Linked DNA regions of Homo sapiens. The protein of the gene in region 2 interacts with the protein of the main gene of each other region in a pairwise test. Each region holds a gene or a part of one and is shown on either strand. Other genes may lie near its edges.

The links.
Region 1: the proteins of ERN1 (region 2) and OTUD7B interact in binary tests that used the Homo sapiens proteins (3 or more experiments, as listed by UniProt).
Region 3: the proteins of ERN1 (region 2) and SLC7A8 interact in binary tests that used the Homo sapiens proteins (3 or more experiments, as listed by UniProt).
Region 4: the proteins of ERN1 (region 2) and LARP4B interact in binary tests that used the Homo sapiens proteins (3 or more experiments, as listed by UniProt).

The regions. Positions count from the first base shown.
Region 1 is NC_000001.11:150,000,717-150,007,739, reverse strand, and holds part of OTUD7B (OTU domain-containing protein 7B), read left to right. Parts: exon of another isoform or gene 1-1,035; intron 1,036-7,023. UniProt on the Homo sapiens protein: Negative regulator of the non-canonical NF-kappa-B pathway that acts by mediating deubiquitination of TRAF3, an inhibitor of the NF-kappa-B pathway, thereby acting as a negative regulator of B-cell responses.
Region 2 is NC_000017.11:64,127,122-64,134,531, forward strand, and holds the start of ERN1 (serine/threonine-protein kinase/endoribonuclease IRE1 precursor), read right to left. Parts: upstream 3,024-7,410; 5' UTR 2,909-3,023; coding exon 2,855-2,908; intron 1-2,854. UniProt on the Homo sapiens protein: Serine/threonine-protein kinase and endoribonuclease that acts as a key sensor for the endoplasmic reticulum unfolded protein response (UPR).
Region 3 is NC_000014.9:23,159,658-23,166,680, forward strand, and holds part of SLC7A8 (large neutral amino acids transporter small subunit 2), read right to left. Parts: intron 6,884-7,023; coding exon 6,679-6,883; intron 5,780-6,678; coding exon 5,628-5,779; intron 1-5,627. UniProt on the Homo sapiens protein: Associates with SLC3A2 to form a functional heterodimeric complex that translocates small and large neutral amino acids with broad specificity and a stoichiometry of 1:1.
Region 4 is NC_000010.11:928,684-935,969, forward strand, and holds the start of LARP4B (la-related protein 4B), read right to left. Parts: upstream 3,023-7,286; 5' UTR 2,745-3,022; intron 1-2,744. Other genes in the region: keratinocyte proline-rich protein-like, read left to right, coding at 3,444-4,148. UniProt on the Homo sapiens protein: Stimulates mRNA translation.

The DNA.
Region 1 (7,023 bases), on a different chromosome or scaffold from region 2:
CCTGAATTCAGTTGACTTTTTAATATAATAGAAGAGAGTTGTTTGTTTGTTTTTAAATAAGACATCCTTGCTGAGTAATGATTGAACACTTCTCTGGATAAAGCAGTCTCCATGCTCCAGTGACAGGCTTTAGGGAGGTATAAAAGATGTAAAGACATGTGTCTTTGCTCTTGGGGTTGAGGGTGGATGGGAAAGGTGGTGTATAAATATGGGAAGGCAGACTATTATGAGCTTTAACATTTAGGAAACAACATATAGACAAAAGCAAATTTAACGTGCTGATAAGTATGTAAGGGCTGAGAAGACTTAAAGTAACAAAGTAAGAATCAGTGAAATAAATTGGGGAGATTTCTGAGTCAGTAAATTTTGAAATGGACTTGGGAGGCTATGGATGAGTCATAAAGAGGTATGGGCTATTGAGTTAGATGGGTCTTCGTTCAGACCTTGCGGCTATTTTTTACCATGTGACCTTGGACAAGTTAACTTCTTTTCCTTATCTGTAAAATGTGAGCATTCAAGTAAATGAAATAGTTACTGTGTTGGGAATAAAAGAAAAGAAAGGATCTTCCAAACAGAAAGTATAGAATGTACAGTGTGCAATGATGATATGAATGACTAAGTTGTGAGTGGGGGGAATATATGAGAGTGACTGTAGAGAATGTGGGTTGGGCAAGTCATGAGTAGAGCAGGCAAGAGGGTGGAGGGGACTCAGAAGCCAGACTCTGTTGGGTGTTGATAGAAGGGTCAATAGAATCATTGTAGGTCCTTGAACAAAGGACGGATTTAATGAGAAATATTGAGCCCTTTGGTTCAGGAACTCAGGGACAAGGAATCAGGCAGGCATCCGTACATTGTGACTCTTATTTTCTGTACCATCCTAACCTGAAGGGATACAGCCAGGAGGCATAAGATTCCTTGTAGAAGTTTTTGTGTTTACACACCTTACTATGCTGAGCCTGCTTGTTCCTGTCTCGTAGTGCACCAACCTGTGGGGAAGTCTCAAGACTATGGCCGGATTCTCCTCAAGAGCTTATAGTAAGGACAGCATTATGTTTCAAGTGCATTTAACTCTCAGTTGTCTCTGCTAATGTAGGGAGCACTGTTGTAGGTAATTCAGAACTTAACAAAGACATTTCCTGGTTATTTTCAACTGTGTTTTTTTTAGGATTATACCTTATCCCTTTATTTCCTCTAAGAAATAGTTTTAGATAAGAAAAATTACTAAACTGTTATTTGTAGTGACCCACTATGAGTTTAATTCTTTGCTAGGTGCTATGGAGGTTTAGGAAAAATGACAACTTTGCTCCCAGACTGAAGTACAGTGGCGCAATCTCAGCTTACTGCAAGCTCTGCCTCCCAGGTTCATGCCATTGTCCTGCCTCAGCCTCCCGAGTAGCTGGGACTACAGGCGCCCACCACCACGCCCGGTTAATTTTTTGTATTTTTAGTAGAGACGGGGTTTCACCGTGTTAGCCAGGATGGTCTTGATCTCCTGACCTCGTGATCCGCCTGACTCGGCCTCCCAAAGTGCTGGGATTACAGGCGTGAGCCAGTGTGCCGGGCCGAAAATACATTATTTTTTAAACTAGATTTATTTTCATTTTTGGGGATCATACTAATATTGAAATAAATTTGCATTTCTAAGCTTATATTACCTGATGGTGGGGAGAGTACACTGATGATGAAGAACAGTCATTCTTGCATTAAAGATTTGGCCTTAGAAATCCGTAAAATGAATAATCCATTTGTAGATAATTAAGACTAGACTACACTGAATATGTTGATAGACCAATTTCTTTTCAAAATCTGTATGGATCCAATGTGGCCTCCTAGGCTGTCTGTCTTATGTCTGAGAATGACTGGCAGGTGATGCTTGTGTTCCAGCCAGAATGAGCCTTCATTCACAGTATCTGGACGAATGCCACTACATTATGTTGTGTTGTTGAAGATTAAGCCGGCTTTCTCAAAGGACTTGTGCTTTGTAGAGGCTCTTCCAGATATCAGCTTCATTGAAAATCTGTCAGACTTTTCCTCCTGTAGGAAAGTTGTTTGAAAGTATGTCCAATTAAAAAAAAAAGGAATGGGCAGAAGTGTCCACATTTAAGAAGTAAACAAAATCACATGCCATTCTTTCATCCCTTTTTTTTCTTCTCCAGTTGACTTGCTTTTCTCCATCCCTGCCACTCTCCCCCACCTCTTTATAATCATTACCAAACTGATGTCACGAGCACAGGATTATTATTTACTTCTTGAGTCAGGAGATTGTAGTATTTCTGAGCTAGAAATCAGGTGGAAAAGTCAGGAATCTTATTTTATACAACTAGATAGGGATTATTTTCAACTGTGCTTTTTTTAGGATTATACCTTAGCCCTTTATTTCCTCTAAGAAATAGCTGTAGATAAGAAAATTACTAAACTGTTATTTGTAGTGACCCACTATGAGTTTAATTCTTTGCTAGGTGCTATGGAGGATTAGGAAAAATGACAACTTTGTGTCCTTGAAGAGTTTACAGTCCAGTTGGGAGTAAGAAGAATAAAAAGGAATGAATACTTGCTGAGCCTCTTAATATGCCACACAAAATTTTAAAATGTGAAACTATATTGTTAGTTGCATAGTGCAGACCTCATACCGTAGGTATTTGGGGAGAGGAGTACTCAGGTAGTTATGTCACAGAGGAATTATAACTCATTTCAGATCTTAATAAAAAAATAGGCCAGGCACAGTGGCTCACGCCTGTAATCCCAGCTACTCAGGAGGCTGAGGCAGGAGAATCACTTGAACCCAGGAGATGGAGGTTGCAAACAGCCGAGATAGCACCACTGCACTCCAGCCTGGGTGACAGAGCAAGACTCTGTCTCCAAAATAAATAAAAAAATAAATGAATAAGTGTTATTGTATTAGGTACAAGGGATGAAGATGAAGAGGATAACAAAACATTTCATATTGGAGCTGAAAGGGATCAAGCGAAAGCCTGGAAACAGGACTATACCTGAGATGTTCTTGGGGCGGTGAGGAGACTAACCTGAGTGGCAGTGAGCAGTAGTGAAATGAAGGTGGGTAGGTTGGTTTGGAGCTATGTTTATAGAGGGTGTTAAAAAGCTAGGCTTATAAGTTTATATATATATATAAAATTTATTTATTTATTTATTTATGTATTTATTTATTTATTTTTTTGAGACAGGGTCTTGCTCTGTTGTCCAGCTCAGGCTGGAGTGCAGTGACACAATCTTGGCTGACTGCAACCTCCGCCTCCTGGGTTCAAGTGATTCTCGTGCCTCAGCCTCCTGAGTAGCTGGGATTACAGGCGTGCACCAGCATGCCCAGCTAATTTTTGTATTTTTAGTAGAGACAGGATTTCACCATGTTGGCCAGGCTGGTCTCAAACTCCTGACCTCAAGTGATCCGCCCACCTTAGCTTCCCAAAGTGCTGGGATGACAGGCATGAGCCACCGTGCCCGGTCAACTTTATATTTTAAATGGTAGAAGATTTTTGAATAGAATAGCAGTATGATGATACTAATACACAGGTTGGCTGGGAGGGAATGGAGATTGACACTGGGGGTGTGTGAAGTGATGAGGCCCGAGTTAGAGTTGTGGAGGGTAGGCTAAGGAGAGGAAAGAGTGAAAAAGAGACTGTGAAGGAAAAATGGAAATTAATGAGGGGTGGATGTGGGAGATGAAGAAGGGTGATGAGTCAACTACAACTGTGACACGTTGTGCCTGGGTGTCTGAGACATTGAGTGAAATAAAGAAGTTAGGAAGCTTTCCTCATTTTGGGGAAATATGATGAGTATAATTTGCGATGTGTTGGATTTAAAGTGGCAATGAAATGTCCAAATGAAGGCTGTCCTGGGTGTGAGCTGGAGTAAAGATGGGGGTAGGTTTGGAAATGCAGTTTTGCAATTCATGGCCTAGATGTGGTAGCTGTAGCCAAGAGAATTAATAAGCTCTCTGAGGACTAAAGTTTAGGGAAAGAGCAGAAGGGCAAAGAAAATGGTACTGATAAACCTAAACACGTCTAAACCTAAACATGTCTCCTATCTTGTAAACACCATCCTAGGCACTGAGATGGAGGTAAGGGAGACAAGGAACCCACGAGGAGCGTATGGGTCTAGTGGGAGGAGACAGATATGTAAATATATAGATAGAATGAAGTGTGATAGATGCTGTGATAGAAGTATGCAGCAGGGAGAGTGGGAGCCCAAGGGTCAGTTCTGCCTTGGGCATGCTGAGGTTGGAAAGAGCCTCCCTGAGGAGTTAGCATTTGAGCTGAGTCTTGAAAGATGAATTAAGGATATACTCTACAGATGACAAGAATTACATTCCAGTCTGAGAAAATACCATGAACAAAAGCTTAAAGGAATGAAGGCCAGACTTCTTCAGGTAACTTTTACTTAATCATTATGGCTGGAGGATGGGATGGAGGGCAGGCTGAAGAGGTAGGCAACGCTGGATCATACAGAGTTTTTATCTTTTTTTTTTTTTTTTTGAGACAGAGTCTTGCTCTGTCACCCAGGCTGGAGTGCAGTGGCACAATCTCAGCTCACTGCAAGCTCCGCCTCCCGGGTTCACGCCATTCTCCTGCCTCAGCCTCCCGAGTTGCTGGGACTACAGGCGCCCGCCACCATGCCCGGCTAATTTTTTGTATTTTTAGTGGAGGCGGGGTTTCACCATGTTAGCCAGGATGGTCTTGATCTCCTGACCTCGCGATCCGCCCGCCTCGGCCTCCCAAAGTGCTGGGATTACAGGCGAGAGCCACCACGCCCGGCCTGGAGCTTTATCTTATACTGCAGTATATCAGGAGCCATTTAATACGTTTCACATCCTAGAAAGATTATGTCAGTGGTGTGTAGGGTGGATTGGAGATGGAGAAAGCAGAATTCCTTTCAATAACTTCATTATACTGAACACATTTATTGAGAGTGATCATATTTACAGATTCATGGAATCAGACAACTGGCGGGGCTGCGATGCTTTCTTAGTTTTCCTCATTCATTTTCAAATAGAATACCTGAGGTTTACTCAGGATCACAGAAGTGGTTCTGTGATAGCTTAGTCTAGAATTCAGTCTTCAGCATGTACTAGGTGATTAATAAAGGTGAATTCACCTCTCTCTTCTCTCCCAAGTCCCATTTCAGTGTTTGTGTCATTCTGCCACATTGCATTGTACTAGCAGATAGAAGGACTTAACATCATTCCATTCTACCGTCTTTTTTTAACCAGTCCAAAGTGAATAGAGGTATTTTCCTAGGTCTGACTGAGAAAGATGTTCCCTGAGAGTACCATTGGGAAGAGGGGCAGTTCGGTGCCCTGGACTGGGCTGAATGAGGTGTTAGGATTTTTCAGCTGTAGTGATTCAGATGTAGAAGAATGTCAAGGTATTTGTTTTGTTGCATGTCTTTATCTCTGCCACTAAGCTCCCTTTAAGTTGTTTTCTTTTAAACTTAGTTTTATTTGTGCCACTGAAACTTGTTAAATAAGCTATGATAAATTGGGCACTGATTAAAAGTATATTTATCTAAAAAAAAAAGAATATCTAAACAAAATTTAGAAAAGTTCAGGGAAAAAACCCAAACAGAAACAATTTTGAGCCTACATCCCAAATTTGATGGACATTAACATTTTGTCATATTTGTTTTAGATGTCTTACTCTCTTTAAAATATTAAATACTCAGATTCTGCATCTTCCCTGTATTTTCATTTTCATTGGATTTTTGTGGAGGGAAATTGTTTGGTTTTAAAGTGCTAAGTGAGAGTTTGGATTTTGTGTTTTAGTCACTTTTGCTGGAGGAGAACAGAACAGGGTAGAGGGCATCCTCTAAGTCCTTAGATTCCCCTGGGAGAAATTGGGACTTAAGGACGTGTGGAAGGATGGATACCTTCCATTGATAGGCCTTCCTCAAAACTTGTCTGAGTTGTGATTTTTAAATTCTTTTCTCTGGGCTCTGTCAGCATCTTCCCCAGAGAAGGGCCTTGGTTTGGAAGCTGTCCACTTAAGCAGAGCTGCCAAGTCTTAATTCTTTCTCAAGTGGGCAAGGGTACATTTTGTTTTTGTTTGTGAGTATTTGGGAGAAGGAAGGGGTGGGTAGAAAGGAGGCACAGAATAGCTACTCACAGTGAGTACTTATCTGAATTCCTGTGTAACTGGAAGCTTTCTTGGCTGTTTTAGGGGAGATAACTTGGTTACACTAGCATTTAAATTATGTGGGAAGGTGGTTTTTCACTCCCCTCTGCTATCTGATTTGAGATGGCAATAAACCTTCTTGTCCATTTTTGTCAGTCCTCACTCTACCCTGTTCTAAGCGCTGCTGTTTGAGGGATGTGAAGGCTCCTCTTCAGTCTAAAACTGAACAAGTCAGATATCTCCTTATAGTTTTGGGAAACCATTCTGCTCCTGACTGTTTTTGTGTTGACTCCTCTATTCATCAAATCACCTGGCCCTTTATTAATTTTACAATTTTGCATAATGAGATATTTCAAACATTTAGAAAAGTTCAGGGGAAAAACTCAGGCAATTTTGAGTCTACAACCCCAACTTGATGGACATTAACATTTTGTCATATTTGTTAGATGTCTTACTCCCTTTAAAATATTAAATGTTATAGATATAGCTGAAGTTCCACCCTGCATCCTTTCCTCCTTCCTCTTTCTCAAGAAATGACTACTGGCCTGAATTGATGTGTTCATTCCTTCATGTTTTATACTTCCTCTGCCCCGCCACATCTTTATTTATTTATTTATTTATTATTTATTTATTTTTGAGATGGAGTCTTGCTCTGTCACCCAGGCTGGAGTGCAGTGGCACGATCTCTGCTCACTGCAACCTCTGCCTCCCGGGTTCAAGCGATTCTCTTGCCTCAGCCTCCCGAGCAGCTGGGATTACAGGTGCGTGCCACAGTGCCCAGGTAATTTTTGTATTTTTAGTAGAGACGGAGTTTTGCCCTATTGACCAGGCTGGTCTTGAACTCCTGACCTCAAGTGATCTGCCCACATTGGCCTCCTAAAGTGCTGGGATTACAGGC
Region 2 (7,410 bases):
CAAGTGCTTAATAATACCAATGTTATTGCGTTTTGGATCTGGTAGCCTAAAGTCTCAACTCATAATGAGTCAATGTCTGGCTCAATAAGACACACACTGAAAGAAAATCACAGTATTGCCTCCAATGCAATAGTTACTACATCAATCAAAAAGAAATATCAAAAACTATTTCTTGCAGAGGCATAGTATAACATTCAAAAAATGATGGCTTAGAGTAAAAAGCATCTTTGGAGCATAAAGAGAATTTACATTTATTATCTATTAAGCACGTGTGAAGGTGGTGCCTTCTTTCACATGTTAGCTGTCCCCATTTCACCTATCAGGAAGGAGTCTCTAAGAAGTAAAATCATGGCCGGGTGCGGTGGCTCATGCCTGTAATCCCAGCATTTTGGAAGGCCAAGGTGGGTGGATCACTTGAGGTCAGGAGTTCGAGACCAACCTGGCCAACATGGTGAAACCACGTCTCTACTAAAAATACAAAAATTAGCCGGGTGTAGTGGTGGGCTCCTGTAATCCCAGCTACTCGGGAGGCTGAGGCAGGAGAATCGCTTGAACCCGGGAGGCGGAGGTTGCAGTGAGCTGAGACCACACCATTGCACTCCAGCCTGGGCAACAAGAGCGAAGAAACTCCATATCAAAAAAAAAAAAAAAAAGAAGTAGTAGTAGTAGTAGTAAAAGAATATGCCTAGGGCACAGCTAGCAAGTGACCAGTTAGAACTCAGGTTTGTCTGATTTTATACCCACTGCGTTCTGCACATCACTGTTGCCTGGTTTAACTGCAAACTTTGCTATGAGTTTCATTTACAATTTTAAAATAATAATTCTTACTATGTTTGGGGGTAAAAACCCTTGGGAGAAAATTCTAGGAGTGAAATTCTGACCTTTCTTTTTTTTTTTTGAGACAGAGTCTTGCTCTGTCACCCAGGCTGGAGCACAGTGACTCCATCTCTGCAACCTCTGCCTCCCAGGTTCGGGTGATTCTCCTGCCTCAGCCTCCCCAGTAGCTGGGATTACAGGCCTGCGCTACCACGCCCGGCTAATTTTTTTTTTTTTTTTTTTTTGTATGTTTAGTAGAGACAAGGTTTCACCATGTTGGCCAGGCTGGTCTCAAACTCCTGACCTCAAGTGATCCACCCACCTCAGCCTCCCAAAGTGCTGGGATTACAGGCATGAGCCACCGGGCCCGGCCTGACCTTTCACCTAAATATAGTTACGCTAAACTATAACCTTTTGATAAGGGTCTGGAATATTTTATCATGAACTCTGAGAAGTTTGGATTTCTAAATACAAATTGGAAATATTTACACGAACTGAAACTATAGTTCCAACTACAGCTAAATCGTTATTTTTGGCTCTTTAGCCTAAGTTATTCAATAACCAAACACTAGAATCCAGTGACAAAGTAGCAAAAGGAAAGATGTGGCAAAGGAAACCATTATACACCTATCCCTTGACGTTATGAAATGATCGAATTCATGTCAAACATTTGGTCATTCTGCTTATACCTTCGTTTGTGAACAGATGCCAGGCAGTAGTTACCAATCCAAGGTGAGGTGCTCAAGTTCAAAACCTGACCTTAGTTGTAAAAGTGGGGTTTTTATTTGAAAGAAAAACTTAACTTCCACAAGTTCTATTATAAAGAGTCTACAAATTTTCCTTTATTTAAAAAAAAAAACCCTGAATTTGAAAAAGGCAACCTTATTTATTTACTTCTCCTGTTTCCAAATTCTTGTTACTCCAAGAGTACAGACAGTTATTTACCTAAAATGCAAAACCTCCAAAGAGTTCACACGGTGGCTGGCACTCAGGCACACACATGTCAGTGCTCTACTGGGACACCTGGTACATGATATCCCTATTAAAGAGTACACAGTACCTTTAAAGAGGTCATTAAACAGAACACGGACAAATTTGCCACGCTCACATCCTGAACAATACATTTTGTGAAAAACATTCGCTAATTTAGGTTCTTCCAACCAGAAGAAAAAAAAAAGCCAAGTCTCCCACAAAGTGCCCCCAAATCCACAGCTGAGTGAAGGTCATAAAGAGTTAAATGAATGTAAACCAGGCCCTATCATTCGTCTCCTCCAGAAAAAGATGAAAAGACATTTCTGATGGCCCCAGGTGCTCTCCCACGAGGAGACAGTCTTTCATTTGAGGTTCTGAAGCGGCCTCACCTCGAACCCATGCGGGATCTTCCAAGAGTGCAATTCCCACAGCTCCACTTGCTCAAGGAAGTCTCGGTGCACAGAAGGAAGCCTGCAGCCTCCCAGTACCAAGAAACCGGCAGGGCAAGTGGCAGAAGCCAGCTCTCGGGTGAGAGTCCTTACTCCCTGTTGCATTCGTTCCCCAAAGTTTTCGAATTTTTAAAAAGTTCAAACAAGGATTCGAAGCGCAGGACAGACCCTTCCCCTGGATCCCAACGCCCTTTCGGCTCCTCCGCGGCCCCCGCCAGGCAGCGCCGGCGCCCGCCCGCGAGGAGGAGGGTCCCGCAGGTGGGCGGCCTCCTCAGGCCGGGGCCTTCTGGGACCCCCAAGTGCCGTGCAGGACGCCACGAAGTTGCGCCCGAGCCCGCGGGGTCCGGGGAGCCGCTGCCCGTGACAGCCGCGCTGGCTTGGGAGGCTCTTCGGGCGGCCGACGCCTCGGTGGGGCCGCGACTCCCGTCAGGGAAGCTCTCCCGGCCCGGTGCCGCCTCCTACGCCCGGCCCGAGCCTCCCACGGCTGGGCTCACGGGGCATCTGGCCGCCGCCGTCGCGCTCCCAGCTCGGACTCCAGCCCCGGCGCCGCGACGCTGCCCCGGCCCCGACCCGGCCGTCGCGAGCTGTCCTCCACCCCACGCTCCCCGGTCACTCACCCCGAGGCCGGGCAGCAGCAGCGTCAGCAGCAGCAGCAGCCGCCGGGCCGGCATGGCGAGGACTCGGCCCTGGCTCCGGGGGCGGTACGGACAGAGGACGGGGCGGGGGCGCCGCGACGACAGCGAGGCGGTGACCGAGCCTCAGCGGACGCAGAACTGACTAGGCAGCGGCGGCACCCCCATTCCCGGCCCTATAAGCGCTGGGTGCCGCGGCTTCTTCCGGTCGGGGCGGAGTTGCGGGCGGGGACGGGGCGGGGCCAATCTAGGGGCGTGTTCGGGGCGGAGATGGGGGCGGGCCGAGGGCGTGCCCCGGGCGGGGATGTGGGAGGGGCTGGCTCGGGGCGGGGCCGAAGGCGGTGCTGGCATCTGGCTGGCTTCGCTCATGAGGCGTCGGCGGCTGTAAAGGACCAGGCCTCGGCATCCAGCGTCTGGGGGCGCTGGGGGATCGAGGCGCGAAGCTTGTCTGTGGCTGGGAAAGACCGGCAATGCCCCACCAGGCCGTCCCATTAACCCTGCCGAGGGACCTGCCGCGTCAGACTTCATCGGGGAAAAGGGCGGGACACGGGCGGTCCCGGGTGCCTAGAAGCCTCCTTTTCGTCTTTCCGCCGTGGTGGAATCATCCGCAAGGTTTACCGAGGCGACCTCCGGAGCGAAGGTTTCAGCAGCTACCGGAGGCTTCCAGCAAACACGGCGCAGCTGCCCCGCGCGGCAGTCGCAGTGTTCACAGCCCTAGGGTTCTCCAGCTGTGCCTCGTCTTCTCTGGGGCCCCTTTCTTCCTTTTCCTTGCCCTCAGGAATTCCCCTCAAGTCATATCCACCAGCCATCACTTCCGCTTGGAATGAACCACGGCCAAGTCACTCACCAAAAATTATAAGGAGGAAACCATTTCGGCCACTTGTGTCACGTGCGTTGATGTGACACGTGTGGATGTGAAGTTTGAGATGGTCTGCGTCACAACTCGTTGGAGGGAGTGGGTGGGTTGAGGCCTCCTGCAAGGTCTATGTGAGGGTGTGGAGTACTAATTAGAGTTAAAGAGCTCGGCAGCTGTTTGGTCACTGGCACTGGCCTCCACTGAGAGGGACATGGGTAGGGAGGACACGTCTTTTGCAAGGAAAGACAGTAAACTGAGATTTGGAGCCCAGGGAAAGGTATCTAACTTATCCTAGGAGAAAAAGAAAACGGCTATGAAATTCTCTAATTTTTCCTGACTTGCTTATATGAGAGCCTAAGATTTTTCAGGTTTGAAGGAAAAGAATAAGCACTCCTAGACAAAACAACAAAGTAGTAGTGGGGGACTGGCCAAATGTCCAGTCTGTGTGCATTGTGGTCAATCTTATCCAACTAAAACAGACCAAAATGACAGTAAGCCCAAATCCTGCAAATAGAGCTCCCCATTCCTAACCCCCTAGGCCTGGATTACAGTGAAGGGACTAAGTCCTACCGCATGCTGGAGACTCCAACACATCTCTGTAAGAGTGGGAAGAATCTTGGCAACTGTGAAAACAGTAGAGACATTTTGAAAAGTGTTACCTGAATGTCTAAATGCAAACAGAGGTTTGGGATTGGCAGAGAGATGTACTGAGAGGCCCAGCACTCCTGAGCAGTATAGCCGGGCTTCCAGGGAGGCCTACAGCCCTGAAACTGGGAGGAGCTCTTTATTTCTTGACCTTTTATCTTTTCTTTTTAGAGATGAGGTCTCACGGTGTTGCCCAGGCTGCTCTCAAACTCCTGGGCTCAAGAGATCCTCCCCAGTAGCTGGGACTTCAGGTGTGCCCCACGACACCTGGCTTGGGAGGACCTCTTTAGTGATTACCTGTCCAGTTTGCCAGCTGACAACAGCATCTGTTAGACCCTGTATACTTGACTTAAAAGAGAAGCTTGACTGAAAAATGTCACTTTCACATCCCCCCCTCTGGTGCTTTTTCTCAAACAGAGTAAGTCTAGGAGGGGAAAATTTGCTGTACTGGAACTCTGGCAGCCCTTTTACAATTCAAAATGTCACTGTGACCCTGTAACATCAGCAGATGAAACACAAAGGGGAATGCTGACCTCAATTTCACTCATAAATCAGTTTTAAAGATCGTAGAAAGAAAAAAAATCTGTTCCAAGAAGCCTGGACAGTTAGGTATTATTTATCTTACACTCAGTTGGACCAAATCCCCAGGGCTTAATTGCACTGTTACATGTTCTCTGAATTTCTTTCTTTTTTTTTTTTTTTTGAGACAGAGTTTCACTCTTTTGCCCAGGCTAGAGTGCAGTGGCACGATCGTGGCTCACTGCAACCTCTGCCTTTTCGGTTTCAAGCGATTCTCCTGCCTGAGACTCCCGAGTAGCTGGGATTACAGGTGCCTGCCACCACGCCTGGCTAATTTTTGTATTTTTATAGAGACGGGGTTTCACCATGTTGGCCAGGCTGGTCTCGAACTCCTGACCTCGTGATCTGCCCACCTCCGCCTCCTAAAGTGCTGGGATTACAGGCGTGAGCCACTGTGCCCGGCCCCATTCTCTGAATTTCTTATGCATCGTCCACATGCTTCATGCACTTCTTCACTTGATTGGCAATCCAGACAGATAAGCACTGGTTTTATTTATGGTGGCATTGCCCATAATCTTGCTCTACAGTCAAGTACTTCTTTAGGCAGCTTTTTGCTTATGATAAAGTAAAAGCTGATAGCACTGATAAACACAAACAGAAATGGAATATTTTGTAGGGTGCCTTTGAAGTGGACCTGACCATATAAAAGACCTGCAAATGGGCAGTAAATGACCTTTCTGCAAGTCACATTAAATAACATCCACTGAATAAAGCAAAGGTCATGGTCTTAGTGTAAAGATAAGGCCTCTTTTCCACCAGTGTAAGAAACATATATACATCAGATTCAACAAAGAAGTACAGCAGGATCTGACTATGGGGAGGTGGGAGAAAATCTTATTTTCACTTCCCTTTAAACCACTGGTTCCCAAACTTGGAGAGCTAAAAAAACAAAACAAAACAACAACAACAAAAAACAGATTTCCAGGCCAGGCATGGTGGCTCACGCCTGTAATCCCAGCACTTTGGGAGGCCGAAGCAGGAGGATTGCTTGAGATCAAGACCAGCCTAGGGAACATGGTGAGACCCTGTTTCTGTAAAAAAAAAAAAACAAAAAACCAAAAAATTAGTCAGGCATAGTGGTTCACACCTGTAGTTCCAGTGACTTGGGAAGCTGAGGTGGGAGGATGGCTTGAGCCCAGGAGGTCAAGGCTGCAGTGAGCTTTGATCGTGCCATGGCACTCCAGCCTGGACGACAGAGCAAGACCCTGTCTCAAAAAAATAGAAATAAAAAGCTGGGCATGGTGGCTCACACCTGTAATCCCAGCACTTTGGGAGGACGAGGCAGGTGGATCACGAGGTCAGGAGTTCAAGACCAACCAGCCTGAGCAACATGGTGAAACCCTGTCTCTACTAAAAAAACAAAAATTAGCCGGGCGTGGTGGTGTGCGCCTGTAGTCCCAGCTACTTGGGAGGCTGAGGGAGAAAAATCTCTTGAACCCGGGAGGCAGAGGTTGCAGTGAGCCAAGACTGCGCCACTGCACTCCAGTCTGGGCGACAGAGTGAGACTCCATCTCAAAAAACAAACAAAAAAAAAGAAATTAAAAACATATTTCCAATAACTTCTTGTACCCCTTTCCCTGACTGATTCACAATGTCCAGGGGCAGAGCCCAGAGACCTGTGCGTTTTGCAGTTTCCACCGTACACTGAAGGCAGTCAAGATCCAGGGCTCCAGCTCAATCATGATGTCCAGCCTTCATCCCTGCAACCATGAATCCCTTTTAGTTTAGCAAATATCGCCCTCTAGTGTAATAAATTATGACCCAAAAAAGGAGCTTGTGCCTGTCTCATTTGTGTTTAAAACCCTTCAAAATCTCATTTAAAAATGCTTGTGAGGTTGATTTGCAGATAGCTAGTGACAGGATAGATACCTTTGAAGGCGGAGACTTGAAAGAAAAATCTAGTAAAACCAGAAAGAAAGGTCATGGTTGAAAACTCCAGTAACATTTCAAAGGAATAGTATCTTTATCAGAATAAATCAAGTCAGTTTTTTTGTTGTTGTTGTTTTTAGTGATATCGCTGCTGCTGCTTCTTGAACTGAACCTACAGAGTGTGTGGAAGTAGTTATGGGATAAATATTAATACAACCATAAAGGGGCAAGGCGCTGTGACTTACACCTGTAATCCCGCACTTTGGGAGGCTGAGGTGGCGGGTATCTTCAGCCTAAGAGTTTGAAACCAGTCTGGGCAACATAGTGACACTTTGTCCCTACAAAAAAATAAAATAATTAGCCAGGTGCCATGGTGCACACCTGTAGTCCCAGCTACTCTGGAAGCTGAGGTGAGAGGATTGCTTGAGCCTGAGAGGTGGAGGCTGCAGTGAGCTGTCATAGCACCACTGCACTCCAGCCTGGGCAGCAGAGCGAGACCCTGTCTCAAAACAAACAAACAAACAAACACAAAAAACAATGAAGCAAGAGTCTCTGATAGCAAGCTAAATTCTCATCTCCGTCCTCCCGTCAC
Region 3 (7,023 bases), on a different chromosome or scaffold from region 2:
ATTGATTAAATTTGCAAGAGACTTGCAAAACAACTCACGAGTTTCTCTGTGACAGCATTCTGCACCAGGCAGTTGGAGGCTTTCTGCAGAGGAATTGCAAAGCAACTCAGGAGTTTGAAGCAACACATGAAGTCCTTTCCTTTCCAAATAGCTCAAGGAAGAAGAGCTATCTGAAGCCCTGGAAAAAGCTAGCCTCTTAGGAATCTCAGTAGAAAGATAGAAAACAAGATTAGAAGCATTTTTTCCTTGAGAGATGCATACAGGATATTTCTTTCTCCTGAGGGTGAGGAAGGAGAAGGAACTTCTTTAGGTCAAGACATTCAGGGAGAAGTGGGGAACTTGAATAAAAAGAATTGATTCCACTTCAGGTGCTGGACATGACTCCAACCCCAAATGAGAGGAAGGAGGCCAGGAGGGGACTGAATGAAAGGTGATCCAGTCTCCAAGAGAATGGGGAGCAAACGGATCCCAAAGGAAAATGCAGAGTTGCACAGATGCACAGATGGAAGCCTGGGAAAGGGTGTCCCCTGGACCCAGTGCTTCCTCTGGATCATTGTGGATGCTTTGTTTACAACTAGAGACCCAGGTAACAGCCAAAAGATGTGGCTACAGGATAAAACGGCAAGCTGTAGGCCGGGTGGGGGTGGCTCACAGCTGTAATCCCAGCACTTTGGGAGGCCAAGGCGGGTGGATCACGAGGTCAGGAGATCGAGACCATTCTGGCTAACAAGGTGAAACGCTGTCTGTACTAAAAACACAAAAAATTAGCCGGACGTGGTGGCGGGCGCCTATAGTCCCAGCTACTCGGGAGGCTGAGGCAGGAGAATGGCGTGAACCCGGGAGGCAGAGCTTGCAGTGAGCCGAGATCGCGCCACTGCACTCCAGCCTGGGTGACGGAGGGAGACTCCGTCTTAAAAAAAAAAAAAAAAAAGGGCACGCTGTAGGAATAACCTGTCAGTACATAGGTCCATGCAGCCAGAGTTGTACAGTAATAGATGCACTTTATTTAGAACTATCCACTAGGACTGCAGCTACTGGCCAGCGGCTGATGATAAGGGCGGCTATCGCTGCTGGCTCTATATCTTACTTGGATCTTTTATATGGGGAATATAGTCATTTACTCATGAAATAATACAAAAGGAGAAAAACACACAAGCAGATCACAAAAGGTATCAAAACCAAGTTCTAACACTTCCCAGTCCCCTCCTAACTCCCTCCACTCCCACTAATATACTTGTTCTGGAGAAGAGAGAAAGGCTTTTTATTTAATTAAAATGTAAAATACTTTCTCTCTCTCTCTCTCTTTTTTTTCTTTTCTTTTTTTACTGCTGGGTGGCTAGGGATATTCTGCTGACTCAGCAGTGAGTAATCAGCTTTGACCTAAATAATAGAATAACTCGAAGTGGCAGCTGCAGTTGCATAAGTGTGATCCAAGTCTGCAGTTCCTTCCCTCTCCCTCTCCTCTCCCCGACCCGCTCAGGATCCGGCAGGCAAGCCAGTTTCAGCAGGTTCTTTCCACCTCTCCACCCCCACCACCTGGCTCCTCCCAACTTCATTTCTCATCAGTTCTCCTCCAAAACAGCCCCACCATGGAACCAGACTTGGCCTCATCTCCTCCCTCCCCCAGCAAACCCTCGCCACGGGCTTTACCACACAGGCTCTCCCTGCTGGGCCCTGTGCCCTGTCCTCCAGTGCCCTCCATTATACACCAATGACCTCTCCACAGAGGGTGGCCTTTCCTCAAAACCTCTCGCTTCACAGTCATCAGCATGTCGCCACAGGACAGCAGGAAGCAGAGTTCCCCATGTGCATATGTTTACGCCACACCGGAACTCTCTACTGCGTCTCTCAAAAGAGACACAGGCTGGGCTTATTTTATGTAGCTGGCTTGCCTGGCCCCTGCTAAGAGGATGAGGAGGGCTGGATGATGGTGGGGGTAGGTGGGTGGGTGGGAGGGGTGCTGGAATAAAAAGTACCAGCATTTAATGAAAGATAGCGTCTACCAGTCGGGCGCAGTGGCCTCACTTTGGGAGGCTGAGGCGGGTGGATCACTTGAGGTCAGGAGTTTGAGACCAGTCTGACCAACTTGGGGAAACCCCATCTCTACTAAAAATACAAAATTAGCTGGGCATGGTGGCTTATGCCTGTAATCCCAGCAACCTGGAAGGCTGAGGCAGGAGAATCGCTTGAACCCGGGAGGCGGAGGTTGCAGTGAGCCAAGATGGCGCCACTACACTCCAGCCTGGGTGACAGAGTGAGACTCCATCTAAAAAAAAAAAAAAAAAAAGCATCTACCAAGCCTTCCTGACAGCTTGGTTCTTGTTTTACTGAATACCGTATGAGAGGATTGGATGCTTATCTGGTATGGCCTGCCATAAAATTCAAAAAAAGAAGAGAGGATTTGAGGGGCCTATAGAAGTGGATTAAAAAAAAAAAGTATTCAACAAACCGGAAAACAGAACCTCTGTACACAGACTCAAAGCAGCTGGGAGTGTCAGGTATAAGGAAAGGGAGAGAGGAAGTTTGTTATAGCTAATGCATGTACGTGTGCACCCTGCCGGGCAGAGGGATGGCAGCTCCACATGGCCTTCACAGCTAGGAGGAAAGGGACACTGCAGCGGGACAGGTGTGGAGCTGGTTTCCATTTCCCCTAAAGGAAATAAGGAAGACTACGCTTGGGAATAAGAAGGATTTAAGATTTTTCTGCTTATGAAGGTAGACAAATATTTGAACCCATATTTCAAGGACATTGAAAATTCCTGTCTTTAGAGGACAAGATTGGCTACTGTTAAGTTGGAGATAATTTCCTTGCAGTTCTGCTGAGAAGGCAGAGGCCAAACTTAGATAAGCTTTATTGAATCTTTGACTACAGGAATAGAGGAGGGGGGTCTTGTCATTTTTGTCATCAGCCAGTTTCTAAATTTCTCCTTGGCTTGGTCCTTGCAGTGTCTAGGTGAGGGGAAGGCTGTGGAGAGGACTGTGCAACATGTCATTCTGGAGCAGGGCTACAGGCAGGTGGCGTTCTTATCTCCTAGGAGAGTTTGGACCTTTCTGGTCCGAGGGGACGCCAAAAAGGCTACACTACTTTGGAGGGTCTTTGTGCAAGAGGTCAAACCCTTGGCAGATTTGGGGAATGCAAAGAAAGCCATGGGGTCTGGCTGCCTGGGAACTTCTTCAACCTGTGGCCTGGCTCCTCTCCTAGGGTGCAAACTGAACAGCCTCGGGGGTTCTTGATTTCTAGTAGAAGGGTAAGGGTGGCCTCTTGTCTGAGACACTTTAGCAGCATCAGCAGGAAAAAGGAAGCTGTCTGTGTGCAAAGAAACACCAAAACAGCAGTAGCTAGCACTTCTGTGGCCTTGCCTCCCACCCTCCCATTAGCTGATCTGATGGCAGAAACAGCACTCTTCCTGCATTCCCACGCCCTCGCTCTTCCCCGCTCCCCATCTCAACTCTGGATCCAGCTAGGATGCAAGGATAAAGTGGCCCCAGCATCTTGCCCACCCCCAGTGACTGATATGACTGGGGTGCTGGGTGTCTAACACTGTGCTGAGGGTGTCCCCTTCCTTCTCTCTTGCAGTCCTTGTGACCACGACCTCTTGAGGCAGCTAGGATTACACTCCCCATCTCACAGTAGGGTGGACGAGTGATTTTGCCCAGCACTCACCACTGCAGTTAGAAATGGTGGACTGGAGATGCAGGCGCAGGCAGCCTGGTTTTGGAGCCTGCATTCCTCTGCCTCCAGATCTGTGAGCAGGCCTGATCAAACACAAGGAATACACCCCCAAACAAATGTCTTGGCCCCATATTGCAAATGGCCTGGGTGGTGGAGGTCTGTCCCAGGGTTGACCAGCACTGCCAAAGAGGGCTCACTTGCCAAGGAGACCGCCTCTTGGGTCCCAGCTGCCTGCCCTGTAAGAGGCTACTGAGGTGGGTGAGTGATCTCTTCCTCCCCCATCCCGTAACAGGACAGAAGGAAAAGTGTCAGGACCTGGGAAAGCATATGGCCAGGATGATCACTGCCCTCAGCTAAGTGTATGTGTGTTAGAAGCTATGGGAAGGCAGGGACCCAGTGAACCCTAGAGGTGGAGCCCCTGAAACATATCTAAGTATTTACTTTAGAAATTAGTTTTTGATTAAAGATGTAAAATACCCCAATCCATTGAGATGACTAATATCAGAGATAAAGCTTTGAGACTTCCTAGAAATACGGCTCTGCAGAACTTCTCTAGGAAGCCTCTCTAACCTATTCCAGCCCACAGAGATCTTTTCCCCTTCTCTGAATTTTATTGTTATTGTTGTTTTTAATTTCTTTTTTTTTTTTAGAGACAGGATCTCACTATGTTGCCCAGGCTGGAGTGCAGTGGCTATTCATAGGTGTAATCATAGCTCACTGTGGCCCAGAACTCCCAGGGTCAATCGACCCTCCTACCTCAGCCTCCCAGGTAGCTGGAACTACAGGTGTACACCACCATGCCTAGCTCCCTTCTCTGAATTTTTACTGCAATTGAATCCTAACCACAGTATCTGTCTATATGGCTTTTCTCCTAGTTAGAAAACTCATCAAGGGCAGGGATCATGGACAAACCCTTCTCCAAGAGAGTTAAAAGAGTGTGACTTGACAAGTTGAGGTAGAAGTAGATGTGGACCTACTGCCAAGAAGCCAGAGTAATCTTCCTAGGAGCAGCTGGGAGTAGCCAGCACAGTGCAGTGCACTGGACAGACAAGAAATCAGGAGCCCTTGCACTCCACGTGGCCTGCCTCCCTGGGCAAGTCATTTGCCTGGCTCTCTGTTTCCTTATCTGTTCTGGGAAAATGTTAACACTGGCCCAGCTTACCTCATGGACTTGTCATTAGGCCCAAATCAGATAATATAGGTGAAAGTGCTTTGCGTAATGTCAAGAACCCTGCCAGTGAAAATCATAGTGCCTCCAAGGAGCTACTTAAGTTTCTTTCTTTTTTTTTTTTTAACACCAGACAATTGTATGCAGAATCCATTCATAAAAAACACACTTGTAGGAAATTGAAAGAAAAGTAATGGGGAAAAGAAAAGGAGGCAGGGTGAGGTGGGTCAGGCCTGTAATCCCAGCACTTTGGGAGGCCAAGGCGGGCGGATCACTTGAGGTCAGGAGTTCAAAACCAGCCTGGCCAACAGGGTGAAACCCCATCTCTACAAAAAATACAAAAATTAGCCGGGCATGGTGGCTCACGCCTGCAATCCCAGCAACTCGGGAGTCTGAGGTGGGAGAATCACTTGAATCTGGGAGATGGAGGTTGCAGTGAGTGGAGATCACGCCACTGCACTCCAGCCTGGGTGACAGAGTGAGACCCTGCCTCAAAAAAAAAAAAATGGAGAGAAGTTAGGAGAGTCAGAGACATGTAGACCTCCAGGGAGGATAAAAGAGGCTGTCCCTCAGACTGGGTGCAGTGGCTCACACCTGTAACCACAACACTTTGGGAGGCCGAGGCAGGAGGATCACTTGAGCCCAGGAGTTCAAGGCTGCAGTGAGCTATGATCATGCGGCTGCGCTCCAGCCTGAGTGACAGAGTGAAGACTCTGTTTCTAAAAATAATAATAATAAATATAATAAAAGAGGCTGTCTTGCTACCAAGACCCAGATGACACTTACATAAGCAGATGGCAGCCAGGAGCCGAAGGCCAGACTCTGGGGGGAAGCAGGTGGGGAAGAGCGGCTGCAGCACGTAGTTGGAGAAGGTGAGGGCGATGACAGCCTGGTTGGTGGGGTAGATCACCAGCACAGCAATCCACAGCCTCAGGAACCTGAAGGAGGAAAGGGACATCCGCCGAAAGGCATGGCAGGGACGCAGAGCCATCAGGGGAGAGCCCGGGCAAGTCATGCATCTCTTTTTTATTTTCAAGGATGCTGAAGAGCCCAGCCTCTGCCCCCACCCACAAATGAGACACCCAGCCCTCTGCAGTGACAATAAAATGGTTTAATGAAGAGTTAAATTTCCACAAGCACTAACACAAGTCTTGGCGTTCTTCCTTTCTCTCCTCTCCTTTCATGATCTCTTCTCCATCACTGTGGCCACCAGCATCCAATGGTGGAAAAACAAAATTTGCAACCCCAGAATGTTGATAGACAGGACATACTAAGGGTGTGGTTACGTAAGCAATAATCAGGAGAGGTATCAAGTGGGGGTTTGCAGGGGAAGCGCCTTCCACACCTTTTGGCCCATTGGTGAGGGTTTACCAATGGCAGGGATGCAGAAATTGAGGAAATTTAAGATTAGGGCCCAGCTCTAGAGGGAGGCCATTATCCTTGGTAGTGTGAGAAGAGGGTGCACTCTACCTTAGCTGGCCACTCTCATTTGTCAAGATAGAAGGGCGTTGTTTTTGTGATGTGCTTTCTCTGGGAATCTATGGTCAGTGTTGTTACACAGTTCTGTTTGCTCTCACTCATAGACTCCTTCCCACTAAGATCAACATAGAGGTCAAAACTACAAACCTGGTCCTCCATCATTATCGGGAGCCTCAAGGGGATACAAGGCTACACTAGCAACCATGGCAGGAAAGCAGAAGAGACATTCCATTCACTAGCACCCCGTGGCACACTGGAGACTGGAAACCCCTGGCCTTGGCTTTTTCCAATCTGACCTCCTTCTGAATGTCTTCCTCCTTTTCCCCTAGACCATTCAGGTCTCCACAGATCCTCTTACCCAGCCAGTCCTCCGAAGATGTCCTTGACATAGGAGTAGTCACCTCCAGATTTGGGGATGGTGACCCCGAGTTCAGCATAGCAGAGGGCTCCCACAACTGTGATGAAGCCCGTCACAATCCAGACGATGAGAGCAAGGCCCACAGAACCAGCATTCTCCAGCACTCCCTTTGGCGAGACAAAGATTCCAGAGCCGATGATGTTCCCTGCATGAGGCACCAAGGGTAAGGAGGGGAGACAGTAGAGACAGGACGGTTGGCAGGATTGGCATTTGGAGGGTGGTCTCATTTCTGATCTGATTCTGAAATGCCTTGGATATATGTAAATGATCTGCAGGCAGGTGTGC
Region 4 (7,286 bases), on a different chromosome or scaffold from region 2:
CGATCTTCCCACTTCAGCTTCTCCAACAGCTGGACTACAGGTGTGAGCCACCATGCCTGGCTAATTTTTTGATTTTTTGGTAGAGATGAGGTCTCTCTATGTTGCCCAGGCTGGTGAACTCCTGGGCTCCTAAACTCACCTAGGCCTCCCAAAGTGCTGGGATTACAGGAATGAGCCACCTCACCCAGCCTGCACGTATTTTAGAACTACATTTTAAGATAATGTGAAGACTGCTTCATAAAAACACCTTAAATATATACTTGTCAAAACTTGTGCTTACTTATGGAAATTGCATTAAATTCAATAAATTCTTTAAATCTCACTTTTAAAAATGGCAATCTTCCCGAACATTAAACCAAATTACATTTCTCCCTGAATTTGCTGCCACTTAATTTCAGCTACTCTTCTACAGAATAGTACCCATGTTATCTTTTTTTCTGTCTGGTTCCTACTCAAAAAGAGTGGAACTGCTTTCTCCAAATATGCATTCTGTGCTCAGAAGCTGTTTTCTCTGCCCAGATACATGTGTAAACAAGCCAAAAAAAACAAAACAAAAAAACAAAAACAAAAACAAAACTTTCTGCTAATAGATTGACAGCTACAAGGTAGAATATTTTAAAAATTCAGTAAGCTGGGCGCAGTGGCTCACTCCTGTAATCCCAACACTTTGAGAGGCCAAGGCAGGTGGATCACTTGAGGCCAGGAGTTCGAGACCAGCCTGGGCAACATGCTGAAACCCCGTCTCTACTAAAAATACAAAAATTAGCCAGGTGTGGTGGCATGTGCCTGTAAATCCCAGCTACTCGGGGGGCTGAGGCAGGAGAATAACTTGAAGACCTAGGAGGTGGAGGTTGTAGTGAGTTGAGATCGTGTCACTGCACTCCATCCTGGGTGACAGAACAAGACTCCAACTCGGGGGGGGAAGAAAAAAATCAGTAATAGTGAAAATAGCAAAACCAGACAACATTTCCATGTTTGTGTTACAACAGTCCTAAGAAAATGAGATTATCATCATCCCCCTGTTACAATTGAGAAAATGTAGGCAACACGAGGGTAACTTCTAATGAATAAGCCATGCCTTTGTTTCATATAAATAAGTCAACTCAACTCACATTAACTTTTCAAAATACCGGATAAAATTTATTTCTAACCAATGCAAGTTTCAAAGATAAGTACACAAATTAAATTTATGATTAAATAATAAGCTTGTTAATCTGATGCCTTTCGGAACGCATTTCACTTAGCAAACCTCAATTAAGCTATTTCTTATATGGTTTGATTACAAAACTGCCTTTCAGCATATTAAATACAAGGAGAAAAAACTGAAAAGCCACAACGATTTCAACTTCTGTAAATTACCCTGACTGTAATGAGGGGCGCCAGGCAGGTTGGGGAAGTATGGAAATTGCACACTGCACACACCACCTGACCACCAAGAAAAAAGAGGACACCACTCTTCCCCACTGTGGTCTTCACAAACTACAACTCAGCACCTATTTCAAGTGCATTTAAATATTCAAACAACTGAAACTAAGAGAAAAAAACTTTCGAAAGGGAAAATAACTTGTCTGTCCCCTTCAATGTTCACCTTGGAGTTGCTCTCATCTCTAGAAAAAGGCCTCACGCATACTGTTTATACTTACAAACTCCACTGCCCTGTCAAGGAAAACCTTCCTGTTTTCTCAGTTATCCAAAACTTCAAACTTCCAATTTACTATTAAGACAAGTTATTGGGCATCCACTTAGAGAATCTCAAACGAAAGCCAGATAGGAGGTAGTTTTCTACAGCTAGGTTTCTCAAGTTTCATCTCAGCCAAGTTTTAAGAACGTTTTACGTAAAAATAAGGGGAAAAGCAAAATTACATTCGCATGAAGTTTCGACGCACAACGGCACTGAAACGGAAAGACTCTTCACGTTCCCAAGCGCACCCTGAGAGGCAGGTGCAGCAGCTTTCCGATGGCTTCTCTGCCGCCCATGTATCCCAGCCCCAAGACCAACACAGGCAATCTTCACATCTGACTTTATTTTTTTAACTCCTTCAGATCCACCTCTGCTCAAGTCTATCAACAGGAAAACAGGAGCGTTCCAAACACACACCGAGCAACAGGATCCCAACTTCCTGGTTCTAAAGGAATGCGATGCCCTGATGACCCGTCCCGCCCCGCACCCGCACGGCCGCCTATCCGGGCTCCGGCGGGACCGAGGAGCGAGTGGCAAGGCTGGCGCCGCACTGCGGGTGCCGGCGCCCGCCCGGCCTGGGGGCGCTCGCGGCCCGCGACCCCGGCCCCGCCCAGGCCCTGCCCGACCCCCGTCCTCGCCGGCCTTCGCCCAACCCCGGCCTCCCGACCCTGACCCCGGCCCGGTCTTCCGGGCACCCAGCTCCGTCGACTCCCGCCTCGCCTCAACGGGTCCTCCTAAGCCCCGGCCCCGGCCTTCCCCTGCCCCGGCCTCGGCCATCCTCAGCCCCAGTTTTCCCCTGCCCCGGCCCCGGTCCTCCTCAGCCCCGGCTTTTTCCTGGCCCTGACCCCGGTCCTCCTCAGCCCTGGCCCTTCCCGTGCCCTAGCCCCGGTCCTCCTCAACCCGGCCCCGGCCTTCCCCTGCCCCGGCCCCGGCCCCGGCCCAGGCCCGGCCCTGCCCGCCGCGGCCGCGTCCTCCGGGAAGATGGCGGCGCAGTGACAGGCGGCGCGGCGCGGGTCCGAGCTGGGCCGGGAGGGACGGCCCGCCGCGGCCCAGGGTGCCTCACCTGTCAGCGCCGCCGCCCCGCCCGACCGGCCGCCCGCGGGCTCCTCGCCTCAACCCCGGGGCCCGGCGGCCGCGCCACACGCGGGGACGGCGAGGAGAGAGACGGCAGGGAGAGGCGGCGCGGCCGGGCCGGGCCGGGCCGGAGGTAGGGGAGAGGGCGGGCGCGAGCTGGCGGCGGCGGCGGCGGCGGATTCTTCCCCTTTCGGGCCCGAAAATGTCTCAACCCCGGGACTCCAGATCCCCAACGCTCCTTCCCGTTCGCATGAGAACACACAGCTCCCACTTCCGGGGCCCTGCGGAAGTCCCGCCCCCGCGCGGACCCGCGCCTCGCGCCCTGAACTCGCGCACTCACCCGCCGGTCCCGCGGACTGGCGCTCAGCCCCGGGAGAGCCTCACGTCATGGTGTTGCGGCGCGCTGATTGGGCGCACCCGACGCTCGGCCCGCCCCGCCGCCTTCTTGGCCTCTCCGCGCGTACACCCTGCTCGCGGCCTTGCGATTGGCGCGTGCGCGCACATCGCCCCGCCCCGCGCACGCCGCACGTCCGCCCCGCCCGCCCCGCCCGCCCCGCCCGCCGTCCCCGGCGCGACCGGAGCGCCTGACGCTGGGGGGCCGTGTGGGCCCTGACTTCCGGAGGGCTGGGCCCTGGTCCTCCGCCACCGCGTGCGCCCCTTAAAGACCCCTGCCCGCCGCCCAGGACGGATGGCGACCCCGGCCCTAGCCTGTCCCCAGACCCTGGACCAAGGCCCCGGCCCTGCCCCGAACCCCTCATCCCACCCCCAGGACCCAGGCCCCGACCCTGGCCACCCAGGACACGCCCTGGCCCTTCCCCGAACTCCCACCCCACAGCTGGGATCAAGGTCCCGGCCCTGCCCGGAACACCTCACCCCACACCCGGGACCCAGGCCCCGGCCCTGCCCCGAACTCCCACCCCACACCCGGGACCAAGGCCCCGGCCCTGCCCCGAACCCCTCACCCCACCCCCGGGACCAAGGCCCCGGCCCTGCCCAGAACTCCCACCCCACACCCGGGACCAAGGCCCCGGCCCTGCCCAGAACTCCCACCCCACACCCGGGACCAAGGCCCCGGCCCTGCCCCGAAGGCCCCACCGGGGACCCAGGCCCCGGCCCTGCCCCAAACTCCCACCCCACACCCGGGACCAAGGCCCCGGCCCTGCCCCGAACGCCCCACCCGGGACCCAGGCCCCGGCCCTGCCCCAAACTCCCACCCCACACCCGGGACCAAGGCCCCGGCACTGCCCCGAACGCCCCACCAGGGACCCAGGCCCCAGCCCTGTCCCGAACTCCCGCCCCACACCTGAGACGAAGGTCCCGGCCCCGAAGTCCCAACCCCACACCCGGGACCAAGGCCCCGGCACTGCCCCGAACCCCCGCCCCACACCCCTAACCAAGGCCTCGGCTCAGCCCCGGAATCCCCAACCCCACACCTGGGATCAAGGCCCCGGCCCTTCCCCAAACCCCCAACCCACACCCGGGACCAAAAGGCCCCGGCCCCACGTTTCCTAGAGGCGCTGGGTTCGGGCCCACGTTGCAACGAGTCAGATGCTCTTGGTAGCTCAGGGAGGTGTTCACACTCCTGCCGTTTCCGTGAGGATGGTGACGACTCCGAACTATAGCAGCATACTCTACCTACCCCTGATCAGTTTATGGAAGAAAAGGAAACCAAACAAAGTATGTTGCGTTTCCCTTAAGCTTGCTGCCTGATTTTCTGGTTTCTGCTCTGATTGGCTACATATACACATATTATCAATTATTCCAAATTTTAGGTTTGTTCCCCCATTAAAACGGCTTTTCAGGGATACCATATTCATGGTTAACCGTGTACCTGTGCTTACAACTGCTTTTTTAATTTTGTTTTTTGATACAGGGTCTTGCTCTATGCAGGTCTGCACTCTGAGCTCAGAGTGCTGTCTCGGGCCCCCAAAATCTGGGATTAGAGATGGGAGCCGGTGTACCCAGCCTGTGCTTATAATTTTTCGTACTCAGCGTTCAAATGCTGACAATTCTGCATTTTGGAAGAAAGCCTCTCCGGCTTCCCATAGTGGGTAGACTGTTGACATCAAGGTTGGGTGCCTTCTTTGTGAAACCTTGTTGCATCCTAGCTTTAAGGGAATTTGCAAGTTAAATAATTATATTCATAGTAATGTTTTTAAAGAACATTTAACGACATAAGACACATTTCCTTTAATATTAAAAGCATGTACATATTTCAGAAAACTTGCTTACCTGGACAACCTGCCCTGACCAGTAGGCCATAGTGTCCTTGCTTAGGTGCCTGGTTCCTTTACCTCCACGGATAACCTACAGGAGCTTACTCTTGGTTCATAACATTGCTAGGGCCATTGATGTGGTATAAGTCTAGGAATTCTGCCCCAAAATTGGTAGGTTAAACTTTTTTTTTTTTTTGAGACTGACTCTCCCTCTGTCACCCCGGCTGGAGTGCCGTGGCATAATCTCGGCTCACTGCAACCTCAGTCTCCCGGGTTCAAGTGATTCTCCTGCCTCAGCCTCCGGAGTAGCTGAGACTACAGCCGCATGCCACCACGCCCAGCTAATTTTTTGTATTTTTAGTAGAGATGGGGTTTCACCGTGTTAGCCAGAATGGTCTTGATCTCCTGACCTCGTGATCCGCCTGCCTCAGCCTCCCTAAGTGCTGGGATTACAGGCGTGAGCCACCGTTCCCGGCTGGTAGGTTAAACTTCAATCTTTTTTGTCTATGTCTACATTCCAGCAGACATCTATGTCTTACCTATTACAAAAGAAAGTAATGGGATGGGTTCAGTGGCTCATGCCTGTAATCCCAGCACTTTAGGAGGCCAAGGCAGGCAGATCGCCCAAGGCCAAGAGTTCAAGACCAGTCTGGGCAATATGTCAAAGCCCCATTTCTTTAAAAAATTATACAAAAGTAGCCGGGCATGTGGTGCATGGCTGTGGTTCCAGCTACTCAGGAGGCTGAGGTGGGAGGATCGCTTGAGGTTGAGGCTGCAGTGAGCTGTGATTGTGCCACCGCATTCCAGCCTGGGTGACAGAGCGAGACCCTGTCTCAAAAAAAGAAAAAGAAAAAAACTAAAACTAAAAGAATTCCATCTCTTCTTTCTCTTCGTATTGTGTAATCCTTTCCAACAATCAGAACTGGGCTTTTTGTTCCCTCATGATCTTCTTTTTTTCAAACCTGTGTCTCAGAAGAAACATCCATTTTCACCTTGAGATGTGAGGTTATAACATGAAATACATTTTCATGGCATCTCTCCTTAGACAAGATCAGTTTTTTAAAACTTTAGTATAAATTTCTCAAACCATGATCAGATACACTCCCTCATTTCCCATGTCAAGTGGTTACAAATTCTGTCAATCCTACCTAAAAACTCTTTCCTTCTCCCCGTCCCCCCAGTGGTTTTGCCGTTGTTACTGCTCACCTGGTTTGATTCAGTGGCGTCGCGGTTGGTCTCTGCTACAGTCCATTACTCACAGTGCCAGCACATGTTTCCTTAAAAAGCTTCATCACCATCCTCCTGCAATGCGACCTTCACCGGCTCCCCGTTGCCTGCCCAGGAGGATAAAGTCCAAGTTCTCCTGTGGAAAGAAGACCCTTCACACGCTAGTCCCAGCCTGTCTTCAGCCCAGCCCCCTGTGTTTCCTTTCCTGCCTTATCCTAAGACATCCTTACCTTCCAATCACACTCACTTTCCGAGCATTTTTGAAGGTATTGAGGGAGTTGATGAGTCTACACTTGAATAAAATACAGACTTTACACTCCAGACTGCACAGTTGACAGGTAAGTCCACAGTTCATAGTGTGGACAGTCCTATACAAAGAAATGGAGAGGTGCCCCAGCTCCAGACGCTGCGCTGCTCTGGAAGTCGAGGGCGGCATTCTTTTGGAGCCTGAGCACTTAGGTCCTAATGGATGTGAGTCCCCTGGCCTCAAATGTGCTTCCTGTACTTGGATGTCTCCTTCTGGCGGAATCTCGCTTATTTTTCAAGTTACAGCCCAAATGTCAACCACTGAAGTGTTTTAGACAGTTGATTTTCCTTCTGGGCCCTATTATTAGCACTTGTTTGTAGCTCTGTTGAGCTACATCACATCATACAATTTTCAGCTGACACTACTGTCATCCCAAAGAAATGGTCAGGCCTCAAGGGCAGAGGCAGCGAGGGCAGTGATCTTGGGACAAAGTCTCTACCAAACAAATACAGCATGTGTATTTCTCTAGCAGAGGCCTACATTTCAAGTGGTGTCTGAGAACATTCTTTTCTTTTTCTTTTTTCTTTTCTTTTCTTTTTTTTTTTTTTTTTTTTGAGTCTCCCTCTGTCTCCCAGGCTGGAGTGCAGTGGCACAATCTTGGCTCACTGCAACCTGCGCCTACCGAGTTCAAGTGATTCTCCTGCCTCAGCCTCCCGAGTAGCTGGGATTACAGGGATGCACCATGATGCCCAGCTAATTTTTGTTGTTTTTTTTTTTTGTTTGTTTTTTGTTTTTAGTAGAGTCAGGGTTTCACCATGTTGGTCAGGCTGGTCTCGAACTC